Linked DNA regions of Homo sapiens. The protein of the gene in region 2 purifies or fractionates together with the protein of the main gene of each other region. This does not show direct contact. Each region holds a gene or a part of one and is shown on either strand. Other genes may lie near its edges.

The links.
Region 1: the proteins of PLEKHA7 (region 2) and CTNND1 purify together in Homo sapiens (co-immunoprecipitation; 2 studies listed by IntAct). This does not show direct contact.
Region 3: the proteins of PLEKHA7 (region 2) and LIMA1 purify together in Homo sapiens (affinity purification with mass spectrometry; 2 studies listed by BioGRID and IntAct, with this or other methods). This does not show direct contact.
Region 4: the proteins of PLEKHA7 (region 2) and CGN purify together in Homo sapiens (affinity purification with mass spectrometry; 2 studies listed by BioGRID and IntAct, with this or other methods). This does not show direct contact.

What each region holds. Positions count from the first base shown.
Region 1 is NC_000011.10:57,792,276-57,799,964, forward strand, and holds part of CTNND1 (catenin delta-1), read left to right. Parts: intron 1-1,734; coding exon 1,735-1,806; intron 1,807-3,301; coding exon 3,302-3,454; intron 3,455-4,181; coding exon 4,182-4,717; intron 4,718-7,689. UniProt on the Homo sapiens protein: Key regulator of cell-cell adhesion that associates with and regulates the cell adhesion properties of both C-, E- and N-cadherins, being critical for their surface stability.
Region 2 is NC_000011.10:16,815,149-16,822,837, reverse strand, and holds part of PLEKHA7 (pleckstrin homology domain-containing family A member 7), read left to right. Parts: intron 1-5,515; coding exon 5,516-6,038; intron 6,039-6,573; coding exon 6,574-6,660; intron 6,661-7,543; coding exon of another isoform or gene 7,544-7,663; intron 7,664-7,689. UniProt on the Homo sapiens protein: Required for zonula adherens biogenesis and maintenance. Acts via its interaction with CAMSAP3, which anchors microtubules at their minus-ends to zonula adherens, leading to the recruitment of KIFC3 kinesin to the junctional site.
Region 3 is NC_000012.12:50,280,235-50,288,723, forward strand, and holds the start of LIMA1 (LIM domain and actin-binding protein 1), read right to left. Parts: upstream 3,287-8,489; 5' UTR 3,186-3,286; intron 1-3,185. UniProt on the Homo sapiens protein: Actin-binding protein involved in actin cytoskeleton regulation and dynamics. Increases the number and size of actin stress fibers and inhibits membrane ruffling. Inhibits actin filament depolymerization.
Region 4 is NC_000001.11:151,507,044-151,514,642, reverse strand, and holds the start of CGN (cingulin), read right to left. Parts: upstream 3,257-7,599; 5' UTR 3,128-3,256; intron 1-3,127. UniProt on the Homo sapiens protein: Probably plays a role in the formation and regulation of the tight junction (TJ) paracellular permeability barrier.

The DNA.
Region 1 (7,689 bases), about 41 Mb from region 2:
GTGGTCTCTGGGTTGGCTGACTCTGTGATGTGACTTGGGAGAGTTGGTGTTAGAAATGAGAAGTATCTTGTGTTTCCTCTGGTTTTTCTAGTCTGACTTTGCTGTGATGTAATCTGTCTGAGGTTTTGTCTGTCTTCCTCTGTGTGTGTGTGCGTGTGTGCGCGCGCACTCGCGCATGTGTGTGTGTGGTAGACATTGCCTGATAGATTGCATCTTACGAGAGATCTCTGAGTGGGAACCAGAACAGTACTCATGCCCTGATAGTCCTTTTCATTGAGTAATTTTTATTTATTTATTTAAATAGGAGTGCAGTGGTGCAATCTTGGCTCACTGCAACGTTCGCCTCCCGGGTTCAAGCAATTCTCCTGCCTCAGCCTCCTGAGTAGCTGGGACTACAGGCGTGTGCCACCACACCCAGCCAATTTTTGTAGTTTTAGTAGAAATGGGGTTTCACCATGTTGGCCAGGATGGTCTCGATCTCTTGACCTCGTGATCCACCTGCCTCGGCCTCCCAAAGTACTGGGATTACGCGTGAGCTACTGCACCCGGCTGAGTGATTTTTTTTTTTTTTTTTTTAAGATAGAGAAAGTCCCTCATACTGAGGAGCCTTGCAGTTGAGAGAGAACAGAATTCCAGTTGGAGGATCAAGGAATTTGAGGGAGGCAGCATGCTTGCAGTGTTCCTAGGATTTTTACAGGAACTACAATAGAAAGTTAGGGATGAAATTATATTGAAAGGAGAAAGCTGGACTGCTCAGGTTTGGAGGTCATGGGGAATTCCAGGATTCAGTATGTGGTTGCTCTCTTATTTTTAACTTCTGCTTAGCAGTAAAACCACACCCTTCCTTCTTCCTGAAAGTAATGTTTAACTTCCTCTCCCTGCAGCATTACACTCTATGTAATGGGAGTGGGGTGGAGGAAGAGTCTCCCAAGGTGGTTGGATCTCACTATTCTACTGGAAGAGGAGCAGGCAAATATATTTTTATGTGGTATAATGTCATTAGATTATTTCCTGCTGCTTAAGACAGAGCAACTTCTGGATGACATTTTGGAATGTATTCTGTGGCTCTAATAATTGTTGGTAAAGATATTGAGCCTTCTGTTTTCTTGAGGGGAGTTGGGGTGCTTGTTTTTGTACTTGGAAAGGGAGACTCGTATCTCTTGCTTTTTTCTTTAATTAAATTTCTGTTTTTTACATTAGGACATGATAGCCATCTTGCTTCTTTCTTTAAAAAGCTGCCTGGAATGGGAGTTTCCAGTGGTAGTACTGCATGAAGATTCATGAGACTATAAAGCTCTTTGGAAACCCCCCAACTTAGCCCTTCCAACTTTCCTTACATTTTTATGGCTTTCCAAAAAGGTTGCATGTAAGGGAAATTATCTAGGTCTGTGCTGTTTATTCAGCAAATAGTTTTTGAGCACCTGTTATGTGCCAGGCACTGTTCAAGGCACTAGACTAAACTAAACTTATCCCAAAAAACCCTCTGCCCTCGTGGAGTTTACGTTCTTATGTTCCAGAGACCCTGTCTGCCAGAGTTCCAGGCCTGATTTTCAATTTTGAGGAAAGTGCTAAGACTAAAGAGTGAATGGTTCTTTTATGAGTACTGACACAAGGACTCCAGGCCACACATATCTTCTTGAAAGCCCTTTTCCTGTTTGAAAAAAAGATCGTTTGTATTTGATAGAGCAAAAGAAGGCCACAAAATGAATTGTCTTCTTGTGGGCTGTGTTTCAGAACGGCCGGTTTGTGGGCGATGCTGACCTTGAAAGACAGAAATTTTCAGATTTGAAACTCAACGGACCCCAGGTAATTCTTTGGCTCAAGACCTGGGTTGCTTCATTCATATTTTCTTATTTCCCCAGCCTATAAGAGCATATTTGTGTCTTGTAAGGTGCCTGGCACATTGTACATACTCGTCAATTAGTTTCTTTTATTTACGAAAACAAAGAAGTGGAGCTCCAAAGTATATATGCAGTTTTGTTTTGGAATGAATTTTAATGACCATTGATCTTTATGACTATTCCTCCTCCCCACTGCCACCCCATTTGATCCCTAAGTACTGCGTTTCTTTTCTAGAGACAGTAGGCTTCTACTTTGCAGCAAAAAACCCTACCTAAAATCTGGCTGGTCTTGAGCCTTTTAGACGGTATCTGAAGAGTAACATAAAGCCAGTCAAAAGATGGCTCTTACTGGGATTTTCAGGTTTGTCTTAAAAGTTCTTTATTTTTGGCCAGGCATGGTGGCTCATGCCTGTAATCCCAGCACTTTGGGAGGCTGAGGTGGGCAGATCACCTCAGGTCGGGAGTTGGAGACCAGCCTGACCAACATGGAGAAACCCCGTCTCTACTGAAAATACAAAATTAGTCAGGCGTGGTGGCACATGCCTGTAATCCCAGCTACTCGGGAGGCTGAGGCAGGAGAATTGCTTGAAACCAGGTGGCGGAGATTGTGGTGAGCTGAGATCATGCCATTGTACTCCAGCCTGGGCAACAAGAGCAAAACTCTGTCTCAAAAAAAAAAAAAAAGTTCTTTATTTTAGACTGGGCACGGTGTCTCATGCCTGTAATCCAACACTTTGGGAGGCCAAGGCAGAGCAAAACTCCGTCTCAAAAAAAAAAAAAAAACAAAGTTCTTTATTTTGGCCAGGCGTGGTTTGCTCATTCCTGTAATTCCAGCACTTTGGGAGGCTGAGGCTGGAGGATTGCTTGAGCCCAGGAGTTCAAGACCAGCCTGGGCAACATAGACCCTGTCTCTACAAAAAAAATAAAATTAGCCAGGCATGGTGGCGTGAGCCTGTAGTTCTAGCTACTCAGGAGGCTGAAATGGCAAGATTGCTTGAGCCTGGGAGGTTGGGGCTCCAGTGAGCTATGATCATGCCACTGCACTCTAGCTTGGGTGATAGAGTGAGACCCTATCTCAAGTAAATAAATACAAGTTATTTATTTATTGGGTGAGCTGCTCTTTTGAGGGATCACTCAGATATAGATGAAACTGCATTTAACACAGTTCATGTTCACTTAGATGACCACAGCTGGGAAGTTAAATCTACTGTCTGTCACTTGGATGTTGATGTGGCTATAGTTAGTTCATGTTTGTTAAATGACTACAACTGGGAAATTATGTCTACTGTCCTTTTGTACAAGTTCAAAAGATGACAGCCACCCATCTAAAAATCCTGAGGCCTATAGAAGATGCATGAGGAGTCCCTGTCTCCAGGTTTACCACTTATGCTTCTTATTAGGATGGCTTGTTATACATAGCACTTAATAGTAGTTTCTTCTCTTTTCTCTTTTGCATATAGGATCACAGTCACCTTCTATATAGCACCATCCCCAGGATGCAGGAGCCGGGGCAGATTGTGGAGACCTACACGGAGGAGGATCCTGAGGGAGCCATGTCTGTAGTCTCTGTGGAGACCTCAGATGATGGGACCACTCGGCGCACAGAGACCACGGTAAACTAAGACGTGTGTAAGATCTGGAAGTGATAAGAGGTCTTTTCTTCTCTATTAGGGGAGGGGTTAAGCACTTAATTAAGATGGAGGACTGATATGCCATTATTGATCTGATTGCATGAAGTGATCTCTGGCCAGATAGAAAGGATGAAGAGATGGGAAAATCTTATGGGATAGGGAAGACAGAAGGTATATCAGGGTCTATAGTAGCTTCCCTTATAAGCATAGTTACTGTCAGGGCAATTTTCCTGCTTGGGGACTTCCTATAGGATGGAAAGAAAGATAGATGGTAGGCTTTAAGGCATTCCTAGGTAAAGTGACCTAGGGATATAAAGATTTGTTTCTTTTGGAGTGGTATAGAATTTAATTGTTCATGGCTGGGCGCGGTGGGTCACGCTTGTAATCCCAGCCCTGTGGGAGGCTGAGGTGGGCGGATCACGAGGTCAGGAGTTTGAGACCAGTCTGGGCAACATAGTGAAACCCCGTCTCTACTAAAAATACAAAAAATTAGCCAGGTGTGGTGGTGTGTGCCTGTAATACCAGCTACTCGGGAGGCTGAGGCAGGAGAATTGCGTGAACCTGGGAGGCAGAGGTTGCAGGTGAGCCGAGATCACGCCATTGCACTCCAGCCAGGGCAACAGTGCAAGACTCCATCTCAAAAAAAAAAAAAGAATTTAATTGCTCACTTCCTTAATTAGTTTTTCTTTTTCTTGTTTCCTACTTGCAGGTCAAGAAAGTAGTGAAGACTGTGACAACACGGACAGTACAGCCAGTCGCTATGGGACCAGACGGGTTGCCTGTGGATGCTTCATCAGTTTCTAACAACTATATCCAGACTTTGGGTCGTGATTTCCGCAAGAATGGCAATGGGGGACCTGGTCCCTATGTGGGGCAAGCTGGCACTGCTACCCTTCCTAGGAACTTCCACTACCCTCCTGATGGTTATAGTCGCCACTATGAAGATGGTTATCCAGGTGGCAGTGATAACTATGGCAGTCTGTCCCGGGTGACCCGCATTGAGGAGCGGTATAGGCCCAGCATGGAAGGCTACCGGGCACCTAGTAGACAGGATGTGTATGGGCCCCAACCCCAGGTTCGGGTAGGTGGGAGCAGCGTGGATCTGCATCGCTTTCATCCAGAGCCTTATGGGCTAGAGGATGACCAGCGTAGTATGGGCTATGATGACCTGGATTATGGTATGATGTCTGATTATGGCACTGCCCGTCGGACTGGGACACCCTCTGACCCTCGTCGGCGCCTCAGGTAGGCAAGAATAGGGGAAGAGAAAAGGGTCTTTCCAAGACCAGGGACAAGGGGTAGCTTTTCCTTCAACTTCTAGGGGCTTTTTGGGATCAGAGATACTCGTGGCCTCCTCCCCTCTGCTTTTTTTTGGGGTGAAAAGCTACCCTGTTTTTCCCTTTTCTGACTTGGCTTAGTATTGACTTGCTATATATATATAATATAAATATATATATAATTTTTTAAATGAAAATAATATAATTTTATTTTTTATTTTTTTGAGACAGAGTCTTGCTCTTTCACCCATGCTGGAGTACAGGGGTGCCATCTTGGCTCACTGCCACCTCCGCCTCCTGGGTTCAAGTGATTCTCATGCCTCAGCCTCCCTAGTAGTTGGGACTACAGGCAAGCACCATCACGCCTGGCTAATTTTTATATTTTTAGTAGAGATGGGGTTTCACCATGTTGGCCAGGCTGGTCTCAAACTCCCGACCTCTGGTGATCCACCCGCCTTGGCCTCCAAAAGTGCTGGGATTACAGGCGTGAGCCACCGCGCCTGGTCCACAAGTTGTTTTCTATAATTGAATATATGGGCCAGGCGCGGTGGCTCACGCCTGTAATCCCAGCGCTTTTGGAGACTGAGGTGGGTGGATCACCTGAGGTCCGGAGTTCAAGACCAGCCTGACCAACATGGAGAAACCCCGCCTCTACTAAAAATACAAAATTAGCTGGGCGTAGTGGTGCATGCCTGTAATCTCAGCTACTCGGGAGGCTGAGGCAGGAGAATCATATGAACCCGGGAGGCAGAGGTTGTGGTGAGCCAAGATCATGCCATTGCACTCCAGCCTGGGCAACAAGAGCGAAACTCCACCTCAAAAAAAAAAAAAAAAAAAAACAACTTGTGATTGTTATTAGTCTGTGTCCTGAAGAATGAACTTTGCTTCTGCTTCTATGCTGAAGTTTTTGCTGTTTCTGGCTAAGATGTGACCCCCTTTTGGTGTGTTAGGCAGAGGATTCTGATGTCTGGGGCCATGGAATTCTTGCTCACTTCTTCCTGGGAATTTCTTTAGTTTCTGATTTGGTATTAAGAACAGAGTCCATTGGGCACGGTGTCTCACGCTTGTAATCCCAGCACTTTGGGAGGCCGAGTTGGGCGGATCACGAGGTCAGGAGATCGAGATCATCCTGGCTAACACGGTGAAACCCTGTCTCTACTAAAAATACAAAAATTAGCCGGGTGTTGTGGCTCGTGCCTGTAGTCTCAGCTACTCAGGAGGCTGAGGCAGGAGAATCACTTGAACCCGGGTGGCAGAGGCTGTAGTGAGCCGAGATCCCGCCACTGCACTCCAGCCTGGGTGACATAGTGAGACTGTCTCAAAAAAAAAAAAAAAAAAGCCAAAAAAACCCCAAAACAAAACATAGTTGAGGGTTTTAGGAATTCAGAACCAAAAGAGACAGTTGAGGACGTGTATAAGAACTTTCTTGTGTTTTTAATCCCAAAGTTAAAAACAAACTTTGACCTCACAAGGGCCTTGACATTCTATGCTTAGGGTCTTATTATTTGATTGTAAAGTGAAATTGTGGTGGCATCCTTGGGTGGGGGTCGGGGGATACATTAGCAACACTCTGAAAGGTCACTAAGCAGCTGCCTACTCTGACTTTACTACTTGTTCCTGGAGATTCTTTGGTGATGTGAAAAAAGGAGTGATTGATGTTTGGACTGGTACATGGTTTGCCTTGTTGCATTGAGAGAATGCTTTAGAATGGGGTCGACAGACCCCTGAAAATGACCACGTAGAACTATTTTAGGCTTTGCAGGCCATGTATCATCTTTGTCGTATGTTGTTCTTTTTTTCAAACAATCTTTTAAAAATAGCATTATGGGGATGTACAAAAACAGGTTTGGCCCATGGGCTGCCAATGCTGCTTCAGAATAAATTAGAAACAGTGTTTTCCAGGTAAAGAGAAATGATAAGAAACAAGGGATGATTTATGGTTGTCTTGATGGTAAGGATATCCTAGCAGCTGTTGCTGAATTTCTCTATATGGGGTCATGACCTTTTAAAGCAAATGCCTTGGTGCTCATTTTCCTCATATATTAGGTAGCTTTGGTTAAGAGTGAACAGGGCTGGGCCCAGGGGTAGAGGCCCCATTATCTAAGACTGAGTCACTCACCTTTCAGGTGTCTTGGATAGCTAATCCAACTCCCATGTGACTCATTTTTATTCCTACAGGAGCACCAGACCTCGGCTGGTGCAACCTAGAGCAGTGGTAGATAACAGCCTTCATTGAAGCAGTCTGTCCAGGGTGTTGGCTCTACTGCAAGTCTGCTTTTTCTGACTTCCTCATTAGTAAAGAGTGATTGGACCCAGATGGGTGTGGGTGGCCAGGTCATTCTCTGCCATCCCTAGTTGTGCTAGTTCACATAGAGTTTTGGGCCTGGTTCTTGGGTTTGTTCCAGGGTAGCACTGGACTTGGAAACCTGCTTGACTAGCAAGCATATTTGCTGCTTCCTGTTCCAGGCTAGAAGAGTAATACAAGGTCAAACTTAAACAGTGAGGCAGTGATTAGTGGAAAAAGCACTGAACCCTGAGACCTTGGTTCTAGTTGTGCCTTTGCCACTAGCTAAGTAGCCTCAAGCAAGTCATTTGGTCTTCCCAGGCACAGCTTTGTTTCTTGTAAAACAAAGGAAAGAATGTCCAATCCACTGCCTTTGTATAGAAAAGGATATAGGATAGAGTTATCTGGAAATTTTGGTTATGGTAATTGTTCTTATAATTTTGTATATTAATAATAGAGGTTAAACATGTTCAATACAGAGCCTGAAAAACCCAGAAAAGCATTACCATCTATTGATAAAGAACCACTGTTAACATTTTGGTGCATATCCTTTGAGTTTTTTTAATTATACATGTAACTATATCCTATTTTCCCTCTACTAAAATGGAATCTTAACATACTGCTTAATAGCCTACTTTTAAGCTATCTAAGCTATT
Region 2 (7,689 bases):
GGTTGCAGCCTGGACATAAGGGTTTTAGGAAGCACATTTTCCCCTATCCCTCTTCCCCCAGTGATCTAATGTGCAGCCAGGACTAAGAATCCTCAACTGAGAGAGCACAGTTGCAGAGGGCCAACAACAGAACACTGAGGACCCCTAGCCTAAGGGTCAGGCAAAAGCTAAGTCACCTGAAGGAGATGAAGAGAAGATGGGGGAGGAAAACTGGAGGTTTTGTTGGGGAGAGTTTCAACTGGAAGGAGTCCAGTCAGCAGTGCACGGTGCTGCAGGTAAGGACTTCCACCTGGGCGTGGTGCCTTCTTTCCTTTTTTTTTTTTTTTTTTTTTTTTCCCCTACCAAAAGCAGACACTTGAGATGTGGTACCTTTCAAGGAGGCTGGGCACCCCTGAAGGAAAGTCCAGAACCTCACGGGTCTTTTGCTCAGTAACAGAAACCCTTTTTCCACTGAGCTGCTTGATGGGCTTAGATGGGCAAACCTGAATTACCATGCTTAACAGAGCTACAGGGTCAAAGTTAGCTCAGGACGCAGAGTAAAAGGAGGGGTTGAAATCAGTAAGACGGCATGGCCAGTGAGAAACTCTTTGTGGCAGGGGCACAGAAAAAACTTTCAAAAGCTGGGTGACTGATATGCAGTGATAAGTTGTCAGTTATGAAATGTCTCCGCATAACTGCTCCAGCAGCCTGTAAACCATGTTATTCTGCTACACACAACGGCCTGAATTTGAGAGTTGGGAGTGGGGTGTGCACCAGAGACCTAAAGGATGAGAAGTTAACAGGGAAATGAGAGGTGGGTGGGGAGGGCATAGGACTTTCCCTGGGATGCAAGATGGGGATTTGAGCCATTCTTATCTAAGGGGAAGGGAGACATCAGGTCTGTAGAGGAGAACAGCTCATTGGCTTTAGAGGTCACTGAGCACACAGTGAGAGGAATTTCATTCCAGTAGGGCAAGCAGATCTCAATGGGCTAGAAAGTGAATAAAAGTGAAGAATTGAAGGCAGAAGACAGAACAGAAAATGCTGTCAATCTTTAAGTGAGCAAAGTGTCTCAGTCTCTGATTATCCTCTTGTATTTTAAAAGGTCTGCCTCTTATAGTCCCAGATTTTTTTTTTCTTAAAGATATATTTGTAGTCTCTTACAGTTAGTCATAAATAGATCTAGGTGCTGAATAAAGGAACTCCTCCATTTTCCATTTGAAAATATATGAGATAGATATCTCTGCTTTGCATATCATCAAGACTGCTAATCTCATTAGACTGAGCACATTAAGACATTGGGAGGAAGGTTATTTGAACTGCAATATGATCCTGTATTTTTGGCTTTAAACCAACAGGGAAGTATTTCTAATTGGAGATACAAATTTCACATTAAACTTTTTTAGGATATGGTTTGTGGGAGACAGACTGACACACTCTTAGAATCTCACTGTATTTTAAGAGCTTGTTTTGAAATTTTAGGCTTTCATTTTCCCACCCTGACCTCCCAGTGTTTAAAGTAATGCATACTTGTAAAATAGAAATGTTGGGGTGAGGGATAGAGTTAGGATCAGGAGACTCAAACACTACAATAAGGAACAGAGTAGAAAATGGAAGTCCTGTGTGATTGATCTGGAAGTTAGGGTGAGGAACATCTGCTGAGTAAAGTATAATAATTTGTTGCAAAAAATGATATTGCATCTCCACATGACCATTTCTGTAATGGCTGTATCAGAATATCCTGTTTAGTGCCTGTTCAGTGACAGGGAGTCCCTGTGGCCACAGAGCATGGTATAAGGAGACCTTGAGCCCAGTTTTTGGGTAAGACCGGAGGTTAGGGGGCCAGCAAATGGATCTGCTGTTAGGGGCAAAGCTGCTCTGGAAGCACCCACTTGCTCGCATGGGGTCTATACCTCAACCACAGTACCACCTCCTCCTGTGTCCCTCCTCCATAGTTACCTTGTTTTGACCCCTAGAGCCAGGGCTCACCATTGCACTGGTACCTTGGGGTCATTCCAGAATGGCAGACTATGTGTAAATGGAGGGTACAGGTTAGAGGATGAGCTTAGGGATTTGAGGTGCAGCTAGTGGGGCAGTGGGGAGGTGAGGGTGGACTCTGACCTTCCAGGCACTGTAGGCAGGCAAGGGGAGTGAGCTGCAGAGCCAGGCAGGAAGGGCGTATGGGTGGGAGCACAGCTCTGAAATGCTTTGCATAGTTTGCATTTTGCTTCTGGCAGAATGAACAATGGTTAGTCAAGTCCTGAACTCCCCAGGGGAAGCCTCCAGCCTGGTTTCTGCCACCGCTACCACCTCTGTTTTGAGGATTCAGGCACTGCCCCGTCTCAGAGGCACATTTGTGTCTAACTTTGGGAGATCGATAGCAAACCCTGCCACCTAGTGGCAGGCCGACTCACTTGGCAGGCACGACAAGTAGGTTGAAGAGATCTTAAAATTATCTACTGTAATGGCAAAGATAGCTTTATTTGAATGACAACTATTTCAAATCCTCACAGCAATTTTCTAAGTGGTTCTTACTATCCCCATTTTGTAATAAGGAAGGTGAGACTTAGAGGGCCTGGATGATACTTGCCTGAGGTCATATAGCTAAAGTGATTAAATGAGTTGAGTTTTAAAACAATTAGAACAGTTTCTCAAACCTTACAGAGCACTAGAATCTCCTGGAGGGCTTGTTAAGACACTGATGCCTGGGCACCATCCCCAGAGTTTCTGATTAGGTAGGTCTGAGGTGGGGCTGATAACCAGCATTTTAAAAATATATCTTATTTTTAATTGACAATAATTATATGTATGGGGTAGATGTGATGTTTTAATATATGTATACATTATGAAATGATTACATCAAACCAATTGACATTCATCACCTTACCTGCTTATCCTTTTTGGTGGTAAGAACATTTAATATCTACTTTTAGTAATTTTGAAATATACATTATTATTAACCATTGTCACCATGCTGTGCAGTAGGTCACCAGAACTTATTCCTCCTAACTGAAACTTTGCATCCTTTGACCAACAGCTCTTCTTCCATCTCTCCTCTCCCTCCCAAAACCTCTGGTAACTACCTCTCTACTCTGTTCTTCTATGAGTTTGACCTTTTTAGATCCCACATATAAGTGAGGTCATACACGGTATTTGTCTTTCCATGCCTGGCTTATTTCATTAATGTGCATTTCTAACAAGTCCCCAGGTGGTGCTGATGCTGGTGGCACACAGGCCACACTTTGAGTAGTGTTGGCTTGGAACAATGTCTGGCACAATATCAGCACCAAATAAATGTTAGATAAAATTGATAGGTGAAGGCAGAGTCAGAATTGACCTCAAGCCTGTCTGACTCTAAAACTTGTTCTCTTTTTACAACATCATGCTGCCTCTCAGGCTTAGTAAAATTCCATACTTTGTCCCTTGCTTAATTTTTTTTCCTTCTCAGAAAATAAGTTGGAGGCTGGGTGCGGTGGCTCATGCCTGTAATCCCAGCACTTTGGTAGGCTGAGGGGGGCAGATCACTTGAGGCCAGGAGTTCAAGACCAGCCTGGCCAACATGGTGAAACCCCGTCTCTACTAAAAATACAAAAATTAGCCAGGCGTGGTGGTGCACACCTATAGTCCCAGCTACTCAGGAGGCTGAGGCAGGAGAATCCCTTGAACTCGGGAGGCGGAGGTTGCAGTGAGCCAAGATTGCACCGCTGCACTCCAGCCTGGGCAAAACAGCGAGACTCCAGAAGAAAATAAGATGGCGGCCAGGCATGGTGGCTCACTCCTGTAATCCCAACACTTTGGGAGGCCGAGGCGGTCAGATCACAAGGTCAGGAGATCGAGACCATCCTGGCTAACACAGTGAAACCCTGTCTCTACTAAAAATACAAAAAATTAGCCGGGTGTGGTGGCACACGCCTGTAGTCCCAGCTACTCAGGAGGCTGAGGCAGGAGAATCACTTGAACCCAGGAGGCGAAGGTTGCAGTGAGCAGAGATTGCACCACTGCACTCCAGCCTGGGCAAAAGAGCAAGACTCTGTCTCAAAAAAGAAAAAAAAGAGAGAAAAAAAAAAGAAAGAAAATAAGATGGCTAGTTGGTGTTAGTTTTTGAAGTCATATCCAGTTTTGTGTGCTGGAGTGTTTATTGAAGGGCTAATTACGCACAGGACTTTCTTAGACTGTGGACAATACCACGGTGTGAAACACAGTTCCTGTCTTTCAAGAATTTTTCACCTTGGCCTGGGAAAACATGTCTTGGAAGTATGAAAAGATCACATCAATATAGGACCTTGGAAAAGTTACAGGCAGTGTGATGACGAGGTCAAACAGAGTTGGATCACTGAGGGCTGTGGCACTACAGAAGGTCCACGTGGGGGAAGGCATGAGCCAGCATCCTAGAGAATGAGTAAGACTTGGGTAAATAGAGCAAGGGGAGACCATCCAGGCAGGGGGAGGGAAGAACAGTGTTATAAGAGTAAGAAGGGCAGGAAGGGTACACACGTTAGTGAAGGACCTTCTGTGTATCAGATGTGGGGGTTGCATTTCCTAACCTGTCTCATTGATTCCTCAGAAGAGCCTTATGAGGCAGGTAATACTATCCTCCTGTTACAAGTAAGGAAACGGAAGGTCAGAGCAGTCAGGTGAGCTGCCTAGGGTCACAAAGCCAGCAAGTGTCAAGCTTGGCTTCAAACCCAGGTTAGACTCCTTTTTCCTTTTTCCGTTGCAAGATGTTGCTAAGGTGTGGAGGAGGCTGGGACGGGACTAGGGTGAGGCTGTCAGGCACCAGCAGGTGTAGGGGTGACCCTGAGATGGAGTACTTCCTTCAGTTTTGGGCCCTAGGCATTTGGCGTGGCCCGTAGGAAGAGCAGTGAGAAAACAGCAGGCCTGCAAGGTGGGTGTTGAGGTCAGCTGCTAGCGAGCTGTGAGTACCAGGCTGAGGAGTTTAGACTTTATTTCAGAAGGGACAAGGAGCCATGGAAGTTTTTGCAGCAAGGAACTGATATGATCAGAGCACTTGACTGTGGACAAAGTGGAAACCCATTAGGAGCATCTCAGAGTTGTCTGGAGGGAGATAATTAATCAGTATCTGGACTAGAAGAGTCCAGAAAAAAGAGAACTGATGCCAACCACTTCCTTTATGAACCTCTGGAACTTGGTGCTAAGGATACCAGGCAGAGAGAAAATCTTGGTAACTTGGAGAATTGTGAGGCCTTTCCTATAAATATGCATAGCCATTGAAAGAGCTGACTGCTGGCAGCGGAGAGAGAAGGAAAAGCCAGGTTTAATCACATTGCACTCCAAGTGATGGGCATGGGGTAGCCAAGTTGTCCTGGCAGAGGAAGTTGACAGAGAAAAATGGTTTTGGAGTCGTCTGCCAAAAGGGGAAGTGACTGAAGTCCTGGATGTCGGCCTTGATCATTCTTTTGAGGTTCTTACAGGACTGTCCCACATGCCCAGCTTTGTGGGTTTACTTAGATATGTTCCCCAAAGCCTGCAGAACCCTCGCTTGGTTGCCTGACCCGTTCTTACCCTTTCTCCTCAGTCTTCCCTTGGACCAGACGCTTCCTCGCCAGGGTCCTGGCCAATCCCTGTCCTTCCCAGAAAACTACCAGACTCTTCCCAAGAGCACCCGACACCCCTCGGGGGGCTCCTCGCCACCTCCCCGAAACCTGCCAAGTGACTACAAGTATGCGCAGGACCGAGCCAGCCACCTGAAGATGTCGAGTGAAGAGCGCCGGGCGCACCGGGATGGCACCGTGTGGCAGCTCTACGAGTGGCAGCAGCGCCAGCAGTTCCGGCACGGCAGCCCCACAGCGCCCATCTGCCTTGGCTCCCCAGAGTTCACCGACCAGGGCCGGAGCAGGAGCATGCTAGAGGTGCCCCGCTCCATCTCTGTGCCTCCATCTCCCTCGGACATCCCTCCCCCAGGACCCCCAAGGGTCTTCCCACCCCGGCGGCCACACACACCAGCAGAGCGAGTCACAGTGAAGCCACCGGACCAGAGGAGGAGTGTGGACATCTCGCTGGGGGATTCTCCAAGGAGGGCACGGGGCCACGCTGTCAAGGTGAGGCTCGGGAAGCTCTGCCAGGCTGCTGGGTCATCATGAGGGCGCCAGGAGCTTTGCCTGGTTTGAACACAAATTTGAGTAATTTGGGATAATAATGATAGCTAATACTTAGGCAGTACATTTTAATAATAGATGCCAGGCACAGTTCCCAAGGGCTTCGCTTTAAATTCTCACCACAACCCTGTGAGGTAGGTGCTATGTTTATGCCCATTTCAAAGATGAGAACTCTGAGGCGCTGAGAGACAAAGTAACTTGCACAGGGTCACACAACTACAAGTCAGCTTCCTTGCATCTTGAAAGGCAGGAAAAGACATCTGTGTCCAGTCAGTTAAATTATAACAATCCAGCTTAAGTTTTCACTTTCCAAGAGGCTTTCACAGTTTAGTGTTCTAACCCTGAGAGTAAGATGTGTGTGCTCATTTCATAGATGAGAAGTCTGGGGCTCAGAGGGGACATGGCATGGGGCGGCTTCCCTGGGAGTGAGTGGCAGAGGTTTGGGCTCCAGTGTGACTTCTTGTCTCCCCACTTGCAGAACTCATCTCATGTGGACCGACGCTCCATGCCCTCCATGGGTTACATGACCCACACCGTCAGCGCTCCCAGTTTACATGGAAAATCGGTAGGGTGAATGACAAGACATAGCCTGCAAAGCCCTATCTCATCAACATTTTCCTTCCTCTGAGTTAGTACAATGCAGTCCAGAGGGCAGCTATTAACCCCCATATTAGAGATGAGGAAACTGAGGCTCAGAGAAGTTGAATGACTTGCTTAGGGTCACCTGGCTGTCACTGGGTCCCCAGTGAAGGGGAAGAGCGTATCAGGGAAATGTAGGGGAATATTAGGCTTATCTCCTCTTTCAAGATGAATTTTGCCAGAAACATTTTTCAGCTACCCACCTTTTTCCACAGGCAGTGCCTCTCCTTTCTTCCCTGATCTTTGATTAGTTAACTAGTTAACTCAATCTTCAAAGCTCGAGTCTGAGACCAGGTGTGGTTGTTCATACTTGTAATCCTACCACTTTGGGAGGCCGAGGTGGGTGGATCATTTGAGGCCAGGAGTTCAAGACCAGCCTAGCAAACATGGCGAAACCCCGTCTCTACTAAAAATACAAAAACTATCTGGGTGTGGTGGTACACTCCTGTGATCCCAGCTATTCGGAAGGCTGAGATACGAGAACTCAGGAGGTGGAGTTTGCAGTGAGCCGAGATCACGCTGCTGCACTCCAGCCTGGGTGACAAAGCAAGACTGTCTCAAAGCAGAAGAAAAAAAAAGCTTGAGTCTGGGTGAGGTTGCACTGTTGGTTGTTGCTTTCCTGAAAAAAACTTCCTGAAGCCCTTTTACTGCCAGTGCCTTTATTTGTCCTAATGACAGAATTGACACAGTAATTGCTTAACGGTGTCACATCAGTGCTGTCCTGGCACTGACACCGGGGTGAAGAGCGTAATTCTAGCAGTGTGCTCCTGCGGTGCTAACTTCCTTGTGCTGTGTCTACACATCTGCAGCTGGAGGAGCTCTCGTTGCTTCTCACCCGGTTAAGGCGGCACCAGGCCAAGTTGGCCAGTGTGCGAAATTTCGCCATCAGCCAGTTACTGCAGCACCAGCTGACCTTTCCCACCTGCCAGGTCAGCACTGGTGGGCTCCTCTCAGG
Region 3 (8,489 bases), on a different chromosome or scaffold from region 2:
AGCTCCGCCTCCCGGGTTCACGCCATTCTCCCGCCTCAGCCTCCCGAGTAGCTAGGACTACAGGCGCCTGCCACCACGCCCGGCTAATTTTGTTTTTGTATTTTTAGTAGAGACTGGGTTTCACCATGTTAGCTAGGATGGTCTCGATCTCCTGACCTCGTGATCCTCCCGCCTCGGCCTCCCAAAGTGCTGGGATTACAGGCGTGAGCCACCGCGCCCGGCCCAGGGTAGTAGTATTAAGAAATTATTTAAAAGAACATCAAAAGAATGTAAAATTTTCATGGTATCATGTTAACTTCTTATGAGTGGACACAGGAAGTCTCTAGAAAGTTTTCACGTGTCAAGAAATCATCTGACATGCTGAATAATGGATTGCTTGTTAGGTCAAACTCCATCCTTTTTATGAAAAGAGGTCTTCAGTAGCACAATAATTTGACTGAGTCTTGAGGACTCTGCACCCAGCTTCAGAATAAACTCATCAGTATGGTCCTACCTTATCATCCACCATAGACTCTCAACTCCATAATCATTAAGTAGAAACTACTTCATTTACAACCACTGGTTTGTTAGTAACCTGAAGAGGCTGTGTTAAGTAACCTCACCTGGAGATTACTGTATGCAATCTAAAATGAAGTACCTTAAGTTTCTATCAAAAAACATACAGTGAAAGACAATAGCAAACTTAAAAAACAATTGCCTTTTCTAATGGAAATTACTAACTTAGGACTCGTTATACATTTTCCTATCTGCAGAAAGGGTACAATTCTAATCTAAAAGTCATCTATCTAATAGTGTATGGAATTAAGAATGCCTGAAACTAGTTTCACTGTCAATTTAAATAATAAATTCTTCCAATTTGTGGTTAGGTGCCCTATTATGCCAAAGATGTCTAATGAACTCCCACACTCTCAATATTCTTTTGTGTCTGTGTGTGTGTCTTTGATAAATTTTTTTGGTACGAGGGCTCTAAGTTAATTGCAGTTAACTGGTGAAAAATACCAGAGAAAATATAAGAATTTGAAACCTGAAGAAACACTAGTCAAAATTATACTTAAAAACATTTTTCCCCACCCACCTATCTACCCTGTCTTCCCCACCCAAGAAAAAAAGAAAGAGAAAAACATTTTGAGGGCATCTTAGCAGGAAAAAGTATCCCCTGTCACCAAGATGTGAATTGTTTTAGCTTCTGAAGCTTTCTTTTAGAATTATTAGGTTGAAATTTAGCCCCACCTTTAACCAGAGTCTGGAACAAAGCTTGAGTGTACCAAGTTAAAGAAAGTTATACAATGAGGTAATTTTTACAAAATGGCACTCCTTTGCTAATGTTGCCAATATACTGTTCTCTTCCCAGGGACTACCTGATAACAACACTTCCCAGCCCAATACAGAACAGTGGAAACAGATCCAACTATTTACTAAATGCCACATTAACAACAGGGTCTAATCCCATTTTCCATAGGCCATAGAATTGGAGGAAGAGAGGGTAAGAAATATGAAAGTGATACAAATACATAGATTGAAGAGAATCACTCATTATTACTCAGAGGTTTTTGTTTTTAAGGAAAAGCAGAAGAGAGAATTAAAAAACAAAACAAAACACCTATATTCCCTATGCTCCTACAGTACCCTGGGCTGACCTCTAGTATAGAAATGACCTCACTAATACCATAAATTGTATGTGGATCTGTCTAACCCATTTGATTTTAAGTTCTTTTAGGGTAAAGACGTTTGGCACTTTGAATCTACAGTAGGACTGACATGAAAGGCACTCAATATTTTGTCCAAAGAATGAAATAAGTTCCTAAACTAATTACCTAGTACATTATATGTTGTTCTATCAATGCAAAACAAGAAAACATATATGAACACACACTTTTTTTTGCCTTCTTTCACGCCAACTCTATAATTTTTTGAAGATCTATCTAAAACGTGATCATCCTGCACCCAGGTTATACCTCTACAGGAACTTAGAACATGTTGTTAGGGGTCATGTTCTTTTGTGTCTACATCATACCTCAGAAGAAAGGATTGGTGTTATTTCATGGCTCCTGAAATATTTAGCATTTGTGAATAGTATTGGTAACCAAGCAGATAAAAGGTACTGTGTTAAACCATTTAAATCAAGAGCAAAAGAAAGAATACTTAATGCAAAAGAAAACCTCTCCCCAAAATGGGCATTGCCTTAAAAACTGATAACTCCCTAATTACCTTTGACTAACCTGAAAAGTCAAGTCAATTGAACCATCTGGATTAGGCAGATCTGGATTAGGCAGACTTATCTTTTATTTTTATTTATTTATTTATTTTTTTGTAGAGACAAGGGTCTCGCTAAGTTGCCTTGGCTGGTCTCAAACACCTGGGCTCAAGCGATCCTCCCGCCTCAGTTTCCCAAAGTGTTGGGATTATAGGCGTGAGCCACTGCGCCCGTCCAAGGCAGACTTTTGAAAGCTGGAATTAGGTGCAAGACAATAGTAGTTCAAATATCTCTCACCAGGATCAGCTAAACCGTTCTTGCAAGCATCAGTAAGGAGGCTAGGAAGGGTGCCAGATGGTTCGTTCCTAGCAGCTACAACTTCAAGCTTTAGTATGTGTAGCCAGGGGTGTACAATTACCTTACATTAACACCAACATATGTCGGGGGCAAGTGCCAGCGATATATACACGATAGCGATTCGGGGATGACACATCGGCTGCAAGGACTGCTATATTCTCAACATTCCTCAAAAGGGTGTAAGTGTCTTAAACAGAGTTCAGCTGGCGTAATGGAAGGGAGAAAAAATCGAAAAGAGAGGGAATGGCTGAAAATGAAGGAAAAAGAACAGTTGAATATTACAGTATTTCCCTGGAAGGAGGGTATTTGGAGTTTTAATGAATTGTCACCTTCCTCCACCACACCAGAAAGTATACAGTTAGAATGCAGTGTTCTCGGTGGGAGAGGACGGGGTATTTGCAGCTCCCGCCCTTGGGCAGCAAAGGCTCAGCCCGACATAAGCACTCCCCACCCAGCGCAGGCCCCAGAAGTGAGGAAAGAACGGAGGATCAGCGTCCCTCGACCCCTTATCTCGAGGGGGAGGGACTCACACTCCTTGCACTCCCCCCGCCCCAAAAGTCGAAGGAGAAAGAGGGTGTGGAGAGAAGCCGGGGTCTTCCCGCACTCTCCGGTTGTGGAGAGAGAAGGCCCTTACCTGGCTAAAAGCCGCCTTTCCTCTGCGCTGCTACCAGCCCTGTCACAGGTCCCGGCGCTCTACCTAGCGCACCTGTCGCGACCAAGCTGCTAACACCTACTGCTCCTGCGGCCCCGCCCCGGACCCCGCCCACCGCCGCGGGGGCGCGCACGCCAGACAGCCTCCCGTGCGGCCTCGGGCTGAGCGTGCGCGCCACCGGCTACGTGCCCAGCGCTCGCGTCTGCTCCAGTCGCTCTGGCGGTGCGGGGCGCTGGCGACGGGACAGGGTTTTTGCTGCCCGGGGCCTAGTCTACCTCGGCACGCTTTTCTCTGAAGGAGACACGCACTTGCACGACGTGGGCCTCTGTGCAGCTCTACTTTGTCCTTAACTCCTCTGACTCAACGTTATCGCAGTTTGACTCTGGAGCCACTCAGGTTTTTCCTAAGCTCAACTCTAGCCAGCTAGGTTCCTGGTGCTTTGGGGGTAAGTTGTGTGCAGGGAGGGTGTTTTACAGGAGGCTGTGTGGTGTAGTGGAAAAAGCTGAATTAAGTACATTAATCCTGAAAACGGTTTGACAAGGGCAGATGACGTCCAAGTTCTCCAACAGCTGTTTTTACTCCTCCATTCAGAATAGGAGCTGTGCTAATGGTTTGGAGACCGTCAATTGGCCTAGCACTTGGCCATCCTGCCCCCAAATTCTTGTCCCAGTTCCGTGCCAGCTGCATGATGCCTTTTGATAGTATCCTTCTTTCCTGTACCTCAAGCATAGTAGGGTTTCAGACCACAAGTTTTCTGAAGCTTTTCGGAATTCATGCAGCTTGATGCGTTATTAGTAGGGGCTGCTCGTGGGAAAACGCTTGTAATTACACTTCCTCAAGAAGTTAATGAAAATGTGTGAGAAGAGAGATTTCCAACAGGTGATGAATATGCCAGCCAGTTATTCCCTTCTTCCTTCAAATATCCAGCCTAGACTGATTTCTGGATAGGTATTGTAGAAATAAAAATTTCAGACAAAACAAACTTAGATTTTGAATCGGACAACAGTCAGAACCAAAAGAGGCTCAGACACCCCTGCTCTAGCTGCCCAGGCATCAAACTTTATAGGCTGAACACGAAAGTAAAGAAATTTGATTGGCTACAGCTAAGCGTTTGCCTTATTTGGGTATGGTCACATGGGAGGTCCCTAATTATATAACCACTTGGCTGGTTGTCTGTTTGTGATTGGTTGAAACTCCATTCAAAATCAGGTACAAGGGGCCGGGCGCGGTGGCTCACACCTGTAATCCCAGCACTTTGGGAGGCTGAGGCAGGCGGATCCCCTGAGGTTAGGAGTTCGAGACCAGCCTAGCCAACATGGCGAAGCACCGTCTCCACTAAAAATACAAAAATTAGCCGGACGTGGTGGTAAGTGCCTGTAATCCCAGCTACTCGGGAGGCTGAGGCACGAGAATGACTTGAACCCGGGAAGTGGAGATTGCAGTGAGCAGAGATCTCGCCACTGCACTCCAGCCTGGATGAGAGAACGAGACTCCATCTCAAAAAAACAAAACAAACAAAAGGTGCAAGGAATACCTCTAAATTTTGGGTTGCTTTCTGGGTACAAAAACAACTCCAAACTAATGGCCTGCTACTTATTTTGCATTAACAGTATCAAGTATCAAGACTCCAGCAAAAGTGGCAGACAGCATGGGAATGCTAAAGAGCATACAATATCAATACAGGATAGTACTCCAGAAAATACGTTACCCTGCATGTGGCGTTCCCTCAATAGATGTCTCCCCTCCCCCCAATTTTTTTTAGCTCTGTGCTTTAGTGGATACAAAAATTACTTGCTTTCCCAAAGCCTCCTTTTGAAGATAGAGCTAGCATTAGGTTGATTGCTAAATTTTCAGGGATTTTATGAGCCAGGTCATAAGCACAACCATTATTAGAAATCAAATTATATAAGCTACAATTAAATTATCTTAAAAATAAAAGTAATAGGCCAGGCATGTTGAGTCACATTTGTAATCCCAGTGCTTTGGGAGGCTAAGGCGGGAAGATGGCTTGAGGCTAGAAGTTTGATGTTGCAGTGAGCTATGATCACACCACTGCACTCCAGCCTGGGCAACAGAGTGAGACCCTATTTCTAAAAAAAAATTTTTAAATATAATAAATATTAAAAACTCATCACTTTGTAGTTTTTTTCTTCATTTTACTAATAATTCTGCTCTTGAGGTTATTTGTCCATTGTATTCCCTGTGGAAATACTACATATGTTGTATGCATCTCTTCCCAACTCTATTCAGAAATGTCACATTGGTAGCACGAAATTGGCTGTAAGGGGAGTATTTACACCATGGAAATGGGCAAATGCAGCAAGTCAGGGCGTGATTTATTGTTTTGTTGATTTTTCTAGACCATATGTTAGCAAACCTTTTGTGTAAACAGCCAAATAGTAAATATTTTAGGCTTTGTGGGACTTATAGTCTCTGTCACAGCTACTCAGCTCTCACTGTAGTGCCAAATGTGCCAAAGTAGCCATAGACAATACTTAAAGAATGGGCATGGGCCAGGTGCAGTGGCTCACACCTGTAATCCCAGCACTTTGGGAGGCCCAGGCAGGGATCACTTGAGGCCAGGAGTTAGAGACTAGCCTGGCCAACATGGCAAAACCCTGTCTTTACAAACAAATAAAATAAACAGACAAAAAAGCTGGGTGTGGTGGTGTGTGCCTGTAATCCCAGTTACCTGGGAGTGTGAAGTGGGAGGATGCCTTGAGCCCAGGAGTTGGAGATTGTAATGAGCCGAGATCACACCACTGCACTCCAGCCTGGGCGACAGAACAAGACCCTGTCTCAAACAAAAAACTCATAGGCCTTTATCTGATAGTGAAGGGAACAATAGAGTTGAAAGGGAAAAATGGAGTAGATACAGGCAAATGTTTACATACATGATACGGTGCAACAAGAATAGCAGAACATACTGCAAAAGAAATTATGTCAACATATTTAAGAATCTTGGAAGAGAATGGCAAATATGCACTATAATTGATGAGACATCTACATATTGGAAGAAAATTACCTAGAGATTTATCTCCAGTACACAGTTGAATAAGCTTCTGTACTGGTAAAGATATTTGTTGCTTTAAAAGAATTGGTGTCAGCTGGGCACGGTGGCTCACGCCTATAATCCCAGCACTTTGGGAGGCTGAGGTGGGCAGATCACAAGTGGGCGGATCACGAGGTCAGAAGTTCGAGACCAGCCTGGACAACATGGTGAAATCCCATCTCTACTAAAAATACAAAAATTAGCCAGGTGTAGTAGTGTGCGCCTGTAGTCCCAGCTACTCAGGAGGCTGAGGCAGGAGAATCGCTTGAACTCCAGAGACACAGGTTGCAGTGAGCAGAGATCACACCATTGCACTCCAGCCTGGGCAACAGAGCGAGACTCCATCTCCAAAAAAAAAAAAAAAAGTAATTGGTGTCTGCCACACAGATTATATTTCTACTACATTATTGTCTATTTTACTTTTTTTCTTTTGAGGCAGAGTTGTGCTCTGTCCCTCAGGCTGGAGTGCACTGGCACGATCTTGGCTCACTGCAACCTCTGCCCCCTGGGTTCAAGTGATTCTCCTGTCTCAACCAAGTAGCTGGGATTACAGGCGTGCACCACCAAGCCCAGCTAATTTTTGTATTTTTAGTAGAGACAGGGTTTCACCATGTTGGCCAGGCCGGTCTCAAACTCTTGACCTCTAGTGATCGACCAGCCTTGGCCTCCCAAAGTGCTGGGATTACAGGCGTGAACCGCCGCGCCCAGCCGATATTGTCTACTTTAAATGTGGCTTCAGTAATGAATATTTGAAATTTAATAATGAATAGTTGAAAGTAAGCTGCATTTTGTTTTAATGGTGCTTTCACAATAATGGGAAAGAAGACTGGAGTGGCCACAGATTTGTCAGAAAAATTTCCTAATGTCATCATTTGGTTCTGTTACCAATTATAATTCAGTATCTGAAATAAAACAAGTCAATCATTTAAAAATATTCTGGATAGTCTGGGCACGGTGGCTCATGCCTGTAATTCCAGCACTTTAGAAGGCCGAGGCAGGCGGATAACTTGAGGTCAGGAATTCAGAACTGGCTTGGCTAACATGGTGAAAGCCTGTCTCTACTAAAAATACAAAAATTCACTGGGCGTGGTGGTGCACGCCAGTAGTCACAGCTACTCGGGAGGCTGAGGCAGGAGAATCACTTGAACCCAGGAGGCGGAAGTTGCAGTGGACTGAGATTGTGCCACTGCACCCCAGCCTGAGACAGAGTGAGACTCCGTCTCAAGAAAAAATAACAATATTATGGATAAAATTTATTCTGTTTACCACCAACCCAAAAAAAGGAAACAGTTGGAAATTATAGCTAAATAACTTGAAACTGAAATTATTAAAATTAGCCAAGTACTTAGGTTGAGATGGGTGGACATGTACTTTACCAACCGCTAATGCTGCATGGCACACATATCCTACATTATAAATGCATTTTTCTCATTCTTTTTATTCTGGCCTAGCAACAAGATCAGCTAATATTAATTTCTTGTAATACCTTACTTTAATGATTGATATTCTTAAATAATTTTCATTACTTTCAGTTGCACTGCAGTTAAGATCAACCAACATTCAGAAAATTAAAAAATTAATAGAATGCACTATAAAAGCTTTGGAAAAATTAAAAATTGGCATTAGAAAGCATGACTCTCAAGTTGAATATTTGGTTAAGTCATCAGTTTGAAGTCATTCCATTTAATAATTTTTTTTTTGAGGCAGGGTCTCACTCTGTTGCCCAGGTTGGAGTGCTGTGGCACAATCATAGCTCATTACAACCTCACACTCCTGAACTCAAGTGATTCTCGTGCCTCTGCCTCTCAAGTAGCTGGGACGACAGGCACATGCCACTACACCTGGCTAATTTTTAAAAACTTTTGGTAGAGATGGGGTGTCACATGTTGCCTAGGCTGGTCTTGAACTCTTGGCCTCAAGCAATCTTCTCATCTTGGACTCCCAAAGCACTGGGCTTACAGGCATGAACTGCCACACCTAGTCAAAAATAGATTTAAACCTCTGCCTAAGAATGTGTTACTAAAAAGTAATGAATACATGTCTTTTATTAGAAACATCATTTTAAGTTGTTTTTATTTGTTAAAATCACCTTCTTGGACTTCTTCACTGTGGAAAATAATATCATTTAAGTGAAATTTTAAAACATGTATTTTGAATTATTTTTTCTTTTTTTTTGATATGGAGTCTCGCTCTGTCACCCAGGCTAGAGTGCAGTGGCGTGATCTCAGCTCACA
Region 4 (7,599 bases), on a different chromosome or scaffold from region 2:
TCCTGGAGGGCAAAGACCATGGCTAGCAGCTAACCACTGTGTCCCCAGGTGTTTGGACACGTGGTAGATGTCAACAAATATTTGTTAAAGGCTGTATCCTGAACTAAAGCCCACTTGCACAGCAGTGGGGAGATTTGCCCAGGACAAATCTACTTTGCCTCAGTAACAGGACCTCTTAGCAACAGGACCTCCTCCTGGTCCAGACTTGCTGCCCTATGTAGTCATGATCTTAGAACCAGAAGTGCCTAGATTGCCAGCTCTCAGAAGCCATATGATTTATTCATGATGCAGTCTACCCTGTCAGTACATCTACTGATCTTCCAGATCCAGGTCAAGGAGTTCCCAGCCTAGGCCCAGCAGAGGGCACAGACCCTTGAGCAACAGCACTAAATTATTCAGAGGCAGTGTTGAACACTCCCCCAGGTCCCAGGTTAGGTTAACTCCCTAACCTCAATCACCTTCAGTCCAAGGACATGTGGATCAGGGGCCAGGAGGGCTGAAGGGATCTTTGGGGTGGGTCAGAAAGCAGGGCTCTAAATGATTCAACATGGAAAACCCGAAACCTACCCGCCTTTGGTTACAGAGGACAGTGGGGCGGGACCAAGGCAGCAGGGCAGCTCTGAGGCCTTGCGTAAGCCCCAGAGACAGGCAGGTAAACAGTGATCAAGGGCCAGGCAACATGGAGTCCAGGGCCTGCGCCCTCACCAATGCCTGACCCTACTTTTCTCTCCCCTATCACATGTCCAGGGCTCTCCTCACCAACTGTACTCCAGGAAGAGACCAGACCACAAGTTGATTCAGGTGCATCTGTCTGCTTCTGCCTTTCCTGCCTGCAAGGAGTGGGAGAACACTCTACACCTGTACCAGACAGCCACTTCTCCCTGAGTTACTCATTAGCCTGCCCTGCCCCAATTCCATCACCTCTGGCCCAGCCATATGCATCTGGTTTCCAACTAGGAGTGACAGGGTATCTGGACTTCTGGCAGGAAGTGGGGGTGGGGTGGTTTCGGGTGTGTGGAGGAAGGACTGATTCACATAGGGCCAGGCAATATGCTTGATGCTAAATAATTGGCAGATTTAGAAAACGGGAGAACTTGAGGTATAGAGATTAGAATCCCCTCAGAGGAAACAAGGAAAGCAAATGGTCGAAATAGAAAAGGACAGCTCAGTGACCTTGATGATTTGGCACCCTTTTTCTCATAGTTAGAGATAAGAAGGTTCCCCGTGGATCCAAAAAGAATCCCCCAAGTGGACTCCTGCCCAGGTCCGCTGAAAGAGCAGAAACCTGAGAGCCAGGCTACAGCTGCTTGGCCAGTAGGGAAAAAAACACAATGAGGAACTGGGCCCCTGCAAACTGGCTGGACTGGTTTGAGAGGCAAGGGGAAGGGGAGGGCCGGGGAAACTACACTGGCAGCTTGTAAAGCAGACCAGAGAAATTCCACACCACGGAGGAGGCAGAGGGGCAAGACCACAGGCAGGGGCTCTCCAGCCTTGATGGCAAAGCCAAAGCTCTGAAGGAGAGGACAGAGGGCAGGGAGGGAACAGGCAGGAGGAGCAGATGAACAGGAACCTGGTGACAGGCCAGTATGTGACAGGGAGACTTTGTCTCCCTCCACCCCTCCCTTTGAGGTTCCCAAAGTTGCATTCCTGATCCCACACTTGCTTTGGCCACCTCCCTGGTCCTCAGTCCGCCCCTCCCTGGCACAAAGAGAAGAGCCCTACACCCCCATCACCTCCCACAAGGGGAATGGCATGCAGGCCAGCCTGGGAAACACAGGAAGGGTTCTAGGAAGCCAGAATCCTCTTAGAGTCGGGCAAATCTCTGGATTAGCAGTCCCCCAGAGCCAGCCCCCAGACTCCCAAACATCCAGGATGAAAGAAGAGATGCATAGGCATGTGTAGGCAGCCCATCTACAAACATAGCGGTTGCTAATTATTTCCCAATTACAACAACCTTCCTCAGGCAGGGCTTCAAAGGGGCCAAGCTAAGGTTGACTCTAGTTCCTTTACCTGCCTAAGGCAAAGAAATTTGCCTCCAGTCTTGTCTGGGCCCCAAGGTGCACCTTTCATCTGTCCTGGGGATTTGGAGTTGTAATTTCCCTAGTCTCGTGGTCTCCTGATGAGTCCTGCCTATTTCCTGCCCCAATAGTGCCTGCTGCCATTCTGACAGCCACCGCAGTTCAGGAGTCAGGGATGCCTGGAGGGCGTTCAGGGAGTAATGGGGATTCCTCCAGACATCAAGGAAATTGGTTGGGCTCCCAAACCTCATCCAATGGTCCCCATCTAGAACCACAGAAAAAATATGTGGGTACTTGGAGAAAGGGTTTGACATCCGCCCCCAGAAAGGGGCCTCCTGAGAAATAAGTATTAATATTTATCAATATTTTGCAGGACCAGGCAGGGCTCTTTGCTTCCTCATATCCCTCTCTTGGGGAGTACTCTCTCTCTCTCTCAAGAGGAAGAAGGAACGATTCTCCCTGGCACGAAAGCAAAGGACACAAAGTGAAAGCCTAATGGTTGTACACCTGGTGAAGAGATGAGGGTGCCCTCTCATCTGCCCCTCAGTGTCTCTGATTCGCAACTGCCTTCGGCCGGAGGTGAAGGGCTGGGGAAAAAATCCCACACCTCAGAGTCATCTCAAAGCCACCAGGGTGCTGACAACGGCCAGCTGAGACCGCAGGACGCAGGAAAGACCCTCAGGCGAGCAGCACCTGCAGATGCCCTCCCCTGGCGAGTCTGCACCTCAGGCAGCAGCAGTTCCCGACTCAGCTGGAACTAACTCCTTCCCCGCGCCACCGCTGTCTCCAAGAGAAATTCTGCCCCTAGGGCTGGCGTCTGACCTCCAGAGACATCTGGCGCTGAAACGCTTTCATGCGCTGGGAACAGCCTTCGCCCCAGGTGCCCCTCGCCTGGCACCTTCCTAGCCACCTGCATCTGGCACCTCAGGGTAGGGGTCGGCTCTTAATCAGTACCCCACCCCGCCCCAATCTCCCCTCCTCCCGTCTCCCACTCGGCACCGGTGCCCTGGAGAGGGGCATCTCACACCGCCTCGATGCCTGCCCCTCAAAGGTACCCCTGAAGGCTCGCTTTCCTCTCGGGTGCCCTGGCCCGCACCGGGTCCACTCACCCTAGCCGGGCTCCGCGCTCCCAGGCTTGCGTTCGGGCTCGGGCTCGGGCTCGGGCTCGGGCTCGGGCTCGGGCTCGGGCAAAGCAGCACGCGCAGCTCCGGCCCTCCCCCTCGTCCTCGGAGCTCCCTCCTTTCTCTCCCTCCCACCAACCTGTTACTCCGCTGCGGAGCTCCACCCCCGCGGGCCGTCAGTGCCCGCCCCGCCTTTCCCCGCTCCGGTTGGTCCGCTTCCCGTAGGGGGCGGGGCCTCCGGTGCGGGGACCGGGACCCGGGGTCTCCAGCCGCGAAGGGCGGGCCAGGTCACGTGGACCCACGGGCTGCGGAGCGTCGGGGCGGGGCGGCGAGGGGCGCGGAGGCCATTTTGGGGGCGTCGCGGATGGTCGCGAGTGACCGCCGGCCAAGATCCCGGGAGCCGTCGGCCAGAGCATCTTCTGGGCTCTGCTAGAAAACAGCCTCCTGCCTCCCGTTTACTCCAAGGGAATCGCCGGCCAGGGCCCTTTCTGTCCTTCACCTACCTCTGCAGGAACCAGAATGCTCTTTCGTCACTTTCTGCAGAAAATATCTCCGTTGTCCCCCGACGTCAGAGCCTCCTGCACCTCAGCTCGTCTCCCTTTTCCCTGACCCGAACCAGAACCCTGATCTTGGATTCTCTTTTATCTTGTGGCCTCCGCAATCATTTTGCAGCCTGACATCTTTTTCTATGTAATATTTATCACCTTCTAGTTAATAACATAATTTTAAAAATCATTTTCATCATTTTGCCTCCCGTCCTACGATAAGCTTCACCAGAGCAAGGATCTCTTGTTCTGTGCCTTGCTTCACCCCAAACGCCTACAACAGGGACTGGTACATACTACATGCTTAATAAATATTTGTTGACTGAATGAATGGAAACCGGGGACGCAAATTTACCAAAATAGGAATGACCTTCGTTCTAAACTGAAAGGGACTCAGTTGTAAATTTACCTCAGAGTTAGCCTCTCAAAAAGTAGGGATGCTGATCCCAGTTCCTAGAAAAGAGTAAAAACTAGGGGCTCTGCAAACTGCAGGACCGCTCATACCAGCTGCAGTTAAAACAACATTAAAGCTGGCATCCTAGCTGTTAACCGTTGAGATATGTAAAAAAGAGATTGACTTCGTTTACGTTGCTGGGCTCCGGATTTTGTTCTCATTTAGTTACAACAAATATTTACCCTGTATCTATTGGAGTAGAAGAGGAATCTTCGATGCAGCACAGATTCCGGTGTATTCTCGGGAGCTGGTTTCCGCCCCTCCCCAAGCCTTCAAAAGCTAGGTGTGGGTCCTACAGAGTAAAGTCCACTTACCAGCTCCTCAGCTGGGATGCAAAGTCTCTGCATTCCAGAGCAAGCTGTATATAAGGATTAGGGCCATCAAACCGGCCTGTTCCCTGGGGAGGAACAGCAAAAAACATGTAGTGGGGGTGGGGACAGAAGAGGAAATGTCCTTCCAGGAGCGCACCTCCTGAACACTGGGTGGCTTTTAAAAGACTTTTTTTTAAAAAATTTTTTCTTATTTTTCTTTTATTGTGCAGCCTCCTGAACCAGAATAGGTTCAGAGACACTCCCATGGGATGGTTTTTGGTTTGGGTTTTTTTTGTTGTTTTTTTTTTTTAAGACGGAGTCTTGCTCTATCGCCCAGGCTAAAGTCCAGTGGCGCAATCTCGGCTCACTGCAACCTCCGCCTCCCAGATTCAATTGATTTCCGGCTAATATTTTGTATTTTTTAATAAAGACAGGGTTTCACCAGGCTGGTCTTGAACTCCTGTCCTTAAGTGATCTGCCCACCTTGGCCTCCCAAAGGGCTAGGATTACAGGCGTGAGCCACCACACCCAGCCTGTTTTGGGTTTTTTTGTTTTTGTTTTTGCTTTAGTTTTGTTTTTTTCATTGAGACGGAGTCTCACTCTGTCACCCGGGCTGGAGTGCAGTGGTGCAATCTCTGCTTACTGCAGCCTCAGCCTCCAAAGCTCAAGCGATCCTCCCACCTCAGCCTCCTGAGTGGCTGGAACTTCAGGCGCCCACCACCACACCGGGCTAATTTTGGCATTTTTAGTAGAGATGGGGTTTCCATGTTGTCCAGGCTGGTCTTGAACTCCTGAACTCAAGCGAACCGCCTGCCTCGACCTCTCAAAGTACTGGGACTACAGGAGTGAGCCACCACGCTCGCCCCCACCAAGTGTTTGTAAGGAGATTTTTTTTTTTAATGTGGGATATTAAATTGACTCAGATATTGGAAAGGCGGAAGCGCCTAAACTCCCCTAGATAACACCTTAGCAATTAGGATACTTAGTATATTTGTAGTAAATACCAATTTGGGTGGTTACCCAGCACCATGAACACGAATTACAAGGATAAGTGGGAGCCTCTGAGTCACCGCCTTCGTCATCTGTTCTTCAAGGAAGCACTCAGTCTGAGAGGTACATCCAGGCACAAGTGACAAAGGCGACACCCTGGTCTTTTTCCAGAGTTCAGAAGACAGGTGATCCCTCTCCTTAAGAAATGCTACAGGGCCAGGCGTGATGACTCATGCCTCTAATCCCAGCACTTTGGGAGGCCAAAACAGGAGGATAGCTTGAGCCCTGGAGTTGGATCGCTTGAACCCAGGAATTCAAGACCAGCCTGGGCAACACAGTGAGACCCCATCTTTATAAAAAATAATAATAATAAAATTTTTTCAAAAAAGAAATGGCAAAATTGGCCAGTTTATAAATACAGCAAAAACAGAATTTATAGCAAATATAATACCCAGAAAGAAGAAATAACACTGATAGATGTTAAAGAGAGAAGTTTTATTTTATGAAATGGGATAATAGAGAAAGTTTTAGGTAAATTGCAGGTTTCATCAAAGAAGTGGATTTGCCATCCTCGCTAACATGGTGAAACCCCGTCTCTACTAAAAATACAAAAAATTAGCTGGGTGTGGTGGTGGGCGCCTGTAGTCCCAGCTACTTGGGAGGCTGAGGCAGGAGAATGGCCTGAACCCAGGAGGCGGAGCTTGCAGTGAGCTGAGATCTAGCCACAGCACTCCAGCCTGGGCGACAGAGCGAGACTCCATCTCAAAAAAAAAAAAAAAAAAAAGTGGATTTGGAACCAAATTCCTCTCCTGCAATTCTTTCCTGAATTCTCCAAGATTCACTGATACCACTAGCAACTCTACTGAATTGTTCTCTCAAAGATCACCCGTTTAAGGCCGGGCACGGTGGCTCATGCCTGTAATCCCAGCATTTTGGGAGGCCAAGACAGGCGGATCACGTGAGGTCAGGAGTTCGAGACCAGCCTGGCCAACATGGTGAAACCCTGTCTCTACTAAAAATACAAAAATTAGCCGGGCATGGTGGTACATGCTTGTAATCCCAGCTACTCGGGAGGCTGAGGCAGGAGAATCGCTTGAACCCAGGAGGCTGAGGTTTCAATGAGCCGAGATTGTGCCATTGCACTCCAGCCTGGGCAACAAGAGTGAAACTCTGTCTCGAAATAATAATAATAATAATAATAATGGAAATGAGGTGATGCCACTAGCTGAAATGGAAAGGACAAGAGACAGGAAGGATTTGAGGAGGACCTAGAAGAAGAGTATGATAAATTAACTCTGGAACCTGATATTTTAAAGAAGCATGTGATGCCGGGCGCGGTGGCTCACGCCTGTAATCCCAGCACTTTGGGAGGCTGAGGCGGGCGGATCAACAGAGGTCAGGAGTTCAAGACCAGCCTGACCAACATGGAGAAACCCTGTCTCTACTAAAAATACAAAAATTAGCCGGGCGTGGTGGCACACGCCTATAATCCCAGCTACTCGGGAGGCTGAGGCAGGAGAATCACTTGAACCCGGAAGGCAGGGATTGCGGTGAACAGAGATCACGCCACTGTGCTCCAGCCTGGTCAACCAGAGCAAAACTCCGTCTCAAAAAAAATTTTAAAAAAGCATGTGGTAAATCCACACACACATACAAATGTCTAGCAAACAACTGGAAATGAAGCCTAGAAAAGAAATCAGGGCTAGAGACAGAGCTAAGAATCATCCTCATAGATGAAAGTTTGCTAAGAGGACTACAGAACAAACTGTGAGAAATAAAGGACAGATGAGGAGTAAAAACGGGATCATTGTGGGGTTATTGAGAAAGGTAAGTAAAGAAGTTCATGCAAGAGAGGTATTCAAGTAGGAGAAGAGACTGGAATTTGGCATTTCGAAGTTATGGGTGATCTTCCAGACGTCAGTTTCAGCAGTGTGATAGGCTTTCAACTCAGAATGCAATATAAGAAGTGTATCAATAAAAAGGAAAGAGAGAGGGTACCTTGACTTAAAGGAAAACAGGGTAAAAGAAAGGGCAACTTCTATGTTTGGTTTTGGGGTTTTGTGGGGAGACTGGTGGGGGGGTGTTTGGTTTTTTTTGAGACAGGGTCTCACTGTCACGCAGGCTGGAGTGTAGTGGTGCAGTCACGGCTCACTGCAGCCT